Linked DNA regions of Homo sapiens: region 1 is linked to region 2. The links come from fine-mapping of genetic effects on plasma protein levels. A gene starts in region 2. The other region holds a variant in brackets. All regions are shown on one strand. Distances are between the middles of the regions.

Region 1 (2,919 bases), 640 kb after region 2:
GGTACCTGACGCATAGTACATGCTAGTAAGTGTTTCATAAATGAATGAGTGGTTGAACACAGTCTCTCTGTTTTTTTTTTTTTTTTTGGTCATTTAGTTTGCAGAGGTGGCTTAGGGTAAGGCTTATATTTGAGAAATGGTAGTAAATTGGAGAAATGAAATAGGCCAATTACATTTTGAGGCAGATCTGGCTTTATACCAAAATATTAAAGACTTCTATGAGATGCTGCCCTTCATACACTTAAATCCATGGCTGTTACCAGAATCCAAATGCCAAGTCTGGCAGAATAAGGAAGGGAATTTAAACTATTCATCCATTATATCAAAGTGAGCCTGTTGCCTCTTCTTACCTCATGCCCAGAAGTCCTATATAAAATCTCTCTTTTTATATACTGTGAAAAGGCATTATTATTATACTTATTGTTAATATTATTAAAAGGTGATTTTAATATTAAATATTAATTACATTAGTTAATGTGTTATAGTATTTATGAACTAACGATCTAATTAATTTATTAAATTTGATTAGTTTGATATTAATATTAAATATGAAAACGTAGCTCAGAAAGGATATGTTTTAAAGGAAACTAATTTCAAAATCCAGTGAGAATCTGTTGACCTTTTTTATAAACATTCACGTTTGAGTAAAATCTTTCCTGCCTCTTTTCCATTGAATGGCCTGAGTGGATGTTTAGCAGCAGGAATAAAGGAAAGAATTATGAGCTACAAATATCACTATCTGCTCTTGTGACAGTACAAACAACAAGAATAATCTGTCCTGTGTGTTTTATTCCCATTTAAAAGAAAACAATTAGCTTCTATATTCTGCTGGAGCTCTGACAGTCTCATGAATGAACCTTTGTCCTTCCCTGGCTATTGTTTGGTTTGTACATATGCATCCTGGAGCTTTGTAACCAAATATGGAGGGTGTAGTGATCATGAAAATTAACAATAGATGTAAAGACTAGAATCTGACAACACTGACAAAGAACAAAAGACAACATATTATCTATTGTAATTTCTAGATGGGGAAAACAAGACAAAATTGTAGCTTATTAGGATCTGGTCCTCATTGAACTTGGGATTTAAAGTAAAACAAAAACAAACTGTTTGTAAATTATTGTTTGATTTCCTCCTTTATCAGACAAAGAGTTTTAACTTTGGAAGAAAGGCTATGCTGATGACACAGTAAAAATTATAGGTGATTGATCGCCAGTTTGGCAATCCCCAAATCTACTTGTATACTTTTCTGCTCCTTATCACCCATCTCTTAAACTTCCATTGGGTGTTAAATGGCCTTTTTAAGAGTAACCCCAATGAGACACGGGAACCTATGTCTCCATGCCCCAGATAACCCAAGGGACTAGCTGGAGATTTGGAGAGATTTACTGGAAATATCAGCCCCAAACCTATGTAGTGCTTTTCAACTCCAAAGAGAGATTTAAAGCCACATATGGAAGCCTCAAGGGAGAGCATGACTTTTGAAGAGC[A/T]GAGACTGGCCTCATGAAAGTTTAGAAATGGCCCCTTTAATTCTTTGGCACCTAGACAAGTGAATCAAACAAGGGTTCCCAATCGTCCCTTCAGTTCCCTCTACCTCTCACCACATTGGCCTCCTCCTCTCCACTCTCACCACTACTGTTAAGATTCTTGTGATCTCGTCCAAGAATTATTTTCATATCCCTACTTACTGTGTGACTCTGGGTGATACAGGAATTACTATTAAACAGTTTCCTTCTTTTCACAATGGAGTTAAATTTAGAATCTACCTCAAAGGAGTGATGCCTAGATTAAATTATATAAAAATGCTAAATCTAGCACATAATCAATAAATGTTTGGTAACACAATAGAAATCAATACTTCTAAGGCATAGTTTCCACATCCTTGATTTCATAAAAAGAATGCAAGTTTCAATGTTTTAGATTACCATAAAAGACAGTGATTCGTTTGTTGCTGACACAAACAACATCTATTTCCTCCCAAACAAAAGTTGGATCATGCTGGAGTAGCACAGAAGCACAAGAGAAGCACATGATCCAGTAATTGTGTGGTAAGGAAGATTTTGAGTAGTGACTTCTGGTCATTTGAAGAGCTCTAATCACAGGCTTTAGATGTTCACAGAACAATCATCAAGAGGCCATTTACTGAAAAGGACATCTGTCCTGGAAAATAGAAACTTCATTTATAATATTGTTTCTACTAATGAGGATTATGTCAAGACTGATAAGAGTTTTTATATCTGTTTGCAGAGTTCAAGATTTCAACATTTTAAGATAATCTGAAAAAAATTGGAATGTGCCCCCAGCTGCGTGAGTAACTAAAGATAACAGTAACCAAGTCTCATTGGATGACCCAGTTCAGCTAAAAGCTTCTCTTACAGATGATGCTATATTCTTGAGAGGAGCTTAGAGTGACTGTGTGGTTCACAAACTGTGCAAATCAAAATGTAAATTCTTAGCTTATCTAATAATTGATTTATTGTGTAAGGTACAATAAATGGTTTAACCACTCTGAAATTTATTTTCAAAATAAAATGAACTCTAGATGTATTCCTAACAGATGCAGAGAAACTCACACTAGGATGCCTTGAGGTTTTCTGAGATGTTTATTTATCCTTTGTTTCAATAGTGAGAACTAATTAGAATAAAATAAAATTAATGAGAGCTAATTAGAATAAAGATAAGATTGATTATTTCTACTTCCAGTTAAAACTAAAGATGCAGAATCAATTTTATGGAAAAAAAGGTTGCCAGGTTTTACTAAATTCAAGGCTGTTTTTTTCCCTCTATTTGTTTAGGATAAACATAGGCTTCTTCCTGCATGTCAATACAATACTACATTTGGCAAGTGTCTCCTGTTTCCAGATGATCCCGGCAGTTCATTGTTCGGGATATTGATTTTAATTAGCACAAGTGGATCAG
Region 2 (2,919 bases):
TAGGTTGCTGTTTTAGAAAATTATATAGACTGCGCTATGAATTTAAACAAGAAGGAACTTGAAACCACTACTGCAAAATTATAATTGAAACAGTGAAAGAGATTGGACCTAACCAACTCTATCTTATTTCTAACTTCTAAGCTGTCCTTACTCATTCTTAGGCATAGGCTGAACTAACTTTGAGGAGGAACATAGTTTATAGTTTAGAACAAAGACAATAACAGCCCTTTCCCAAAACAAACCTTCTTTCCTGGGGACTGGACCGCCTTTGCAGGACTAACAAATTAGCCAAAAGATTAGAAATTATGGTTTAGGAGTCATACAGCTGGAGGCTGTATGATTCTGACCCTCCCCAAATTGCTCCTGGGAATAACATCACTATTGTAAAGCCTAAGACCAGTGCTTCAGATATGTTGCAGACCCTGCACTGGATGGATCAGCAGGCACCACTCAGCTCGATAAACTGGCTCATCTGATCCCATGGCCCCCACCCAGGAACTGACTTAATGCAAGACAGCTTTGACTCCCTATGATTTCACCTCTGACCCAAACAACCAGGTCTCCCGACTTACTGGCTCTCCTCCACCCACCAAATTGTCCTTAAAAACTTTGATCCCCAATGCTTGCGGAGACTGATTTGTGTAATAATAAAACTCCAGTCCTCTGCACAGCCGGCTCTACGTGAATTTCCCTTTATGAATTGCAATTCCCCTGTCTTGATAAATCAGCTGTGTCTTGACAGTGGGCAAGGTAAACCCATTGGGTGGTTACAAACTGTGTACCCAAGCAATAAAAGTAACAATTTGGGAAGTATTTGAGACCCACCAACCAAAATTTCTTTAACAATTTTGGTCTATTCAGTCATTCATCCATTCATGTAACCACTATTATTGGGTGTCAAGAACTGATACTTACTTAGAACGTTAAGAGCATTATTCATCTTGACATACCAAATCATCCGAGTTACTGAAAATTGGTTTACTAGGTTCCTTACAAAGAGGTTGCTTGGATTTATAAAATATGAGGCAGTTGACCCGAGACAAGGACGTAGAAAGTGGTTCATGTACCCAATTTTTATTTTTCACTTTGAACCCAGAACATTCACGACTCCAGGCCAGAAATTCAAGACTCTGCAGCTAGTTCTGACTCCAGTCCTAGGGTAACAAGCCCACCAAGAATCCAGGGCAGATGTCCTGAAAACCCTTCTTGCGGGGTCAGGAGGGCAGCAGAATTTTGGGACCAAATCTCAACAACTGGTTTTGGTTTCCTCACTCACCAAGCCACAAGCCTGCAGAGTGAGAAGAGGTAAGGAAAGGATGAATGGGCAATGGAGCCAGCCCAGGACCGGGAGCTGGTCCTCTCTAACAGCGACCCCGCCCGCTTTAGCTGAGCGACCCGGGGCAGGTTACATAGTGTCTCTAACTTAAGCCACGTGTTTCTCGAGGAAATGCTGAGAGGATCTAATGGGAAAACGTGGGTACACGTCTTAGCTAAGACCCTCGCCCACGATAAGCCCTTAATAAGTAGTTATTTTTCAGTGGTGGTGATTACCATCGTCATTATTGTTTTGTATTTGTAATCATCACTGCCACGACCATCACCGACCTCTTTTACGCCTCCACCGGGATCCCCACCTCCCAGCCTGGCAGTTCCAGGCTCTGGTGACTCATTCACTTCCTGGAAGTCCTCTAGGCAACACTTTCCTCTCCCGAGTGACGACTCCTCAGAAGGCAGGAGATCCCCCCCGGAAACCTTTCTCTCTCCGTCTCTCCCTCTAACTCAAATCTCTCATTCCCGAGTCCAAACTAAGAGAGACTCGCGCCCCAGGAGTCAGCCAGCGGCGCGGGCGCCTTCCCCGCACGCCTCTGCCGTCTGGAGGACGCAGGCGGGAGCGCCCCGGACCGGGTTCACGGTCTCGCACTCCTGCCGCCGGCGCCCCGCGGTCCCGCCCTAGCAGGCTCCTTCCCGGGCCCCTCCCCGCTCCCTCCTCTTTCTCGCTGCTCAGTCACATCTTTCTCTTCCTTCCACCCCGAGGGACCATGTCGAGGCTCAGCTGGGGATACCGCGAGCACAACGGTGAGCGCCTTTTCCTGATCCAAGGGGGGGTTTGTGCGGGGGACGAGAGGACTAGCGCGACGCCCCGGCGCTCGCTGACCACACACTGGGCTCGCACATTGAGAAACTTTTTCGGTTCCTCTTTAAACTAAGCAGCACTCCTGGGAGCCCAGTGCGAGAAGCGGAGAGCAGTCTTGTCAGGGTAGACGGGTTGTTGGTGGTGGATGTGAGCGTTGGTGTGTGTTATCTCTGTCAGGATTCCCCAAACTCCCAAGTGTTCATACGTGTGAGTTCACCTTCATCTGAAAAGCCAAGGACTTTGCCTAGTAACAGCCACGTATCAATTACAGGCTTGGAGATCAGAAGTCTGATGACACACTTCAGTGAAATAAGGACAAGTTCGCTTTCAGTCTTTTAAGCTCACTATTCACTTAGGAGAAACAAATCATAGAAAATCTTTAAAAATATATTTAGGAAATCTTAACTTGCATTGTGACACTGAAGATTAAGTTGGCTTCGTGGCAAACAAAATACTGCATGTTTCCTAATAGTTGTTACTGTAAATATTCCCACAGCAATTTGCAGTTGGCTGACTACTACTGGGGACTTTAGTAAGGGTTCAGGTTCTCGCTGGGAAATTAAGTTACATTGTGGGTTACTTCTCCACTCTTCTTCTCCACGCTCATCCTTGCAGGGTGAGCAAAGGATTACTGAAATTATAATTCATTGATAGAAATGTATTAATAGGATAAATAATAATGACATACACTTTTCTTCTTGTATATCACACATTATCAAAAGTAAAACATTTTTTCTTGTTCCTACGTTAAACTGAACTGATTGTTTAAATAATAATTATTTGAA

Which allele goes with the higher level. Positions count from the first base shown, and alleles are read on the strand shown. Strength reflects both the effect of a copy and how common the allele is.
As copies of T replace A in region 1, the plasma level of the protein whose gene starts at base 1,669 in region 2 goes down (moderate association).

Evidence for each region. A credible set is the group of variants that fine-mapping cannot tell apart. PIP is the chance, under the fine-mapping model, that this variant and not a neighbour inherited with it causes the effect. Protein levels are from antibody-based Olink assays in UK Biobank. Linkage for the fine-mapping came from a reference panel and not from the study's own genotypes, which makes the PIPs less certain.
Region 1: its variant is the best candidate, but not a certain one, in a credible set for the plasma level of the CA13 protein (UK Biobank, PIP 0.71).

What each region holds. Positions count from the first base shown.
Region 1 is chr8:85,883,688-85,886,606 of GRCh38, forward strand. LOC124901971 (a long non-coding RNA gene) reads left to right here and starts at 2,206. Exons shown (of 2, transcript XR_007060987.1): 1 at 2,206-2,307. The variant A/T (reference allele first, on the strand shown) is at 1,491.
Region 2 is chr8:85,243,790-85,246,708 of GRCh38, forward strand. CA13 (carbonic anhydrase 13) reads left to right here and starts at 1,669. Exons shown (of 7, transcript NM_198584.3): 1 at 1,669-2,076. The coding sequence starts at 2,040. RefSeq lists a silencer at 1,924-2,003 and an enhancer at 2,364-2,473.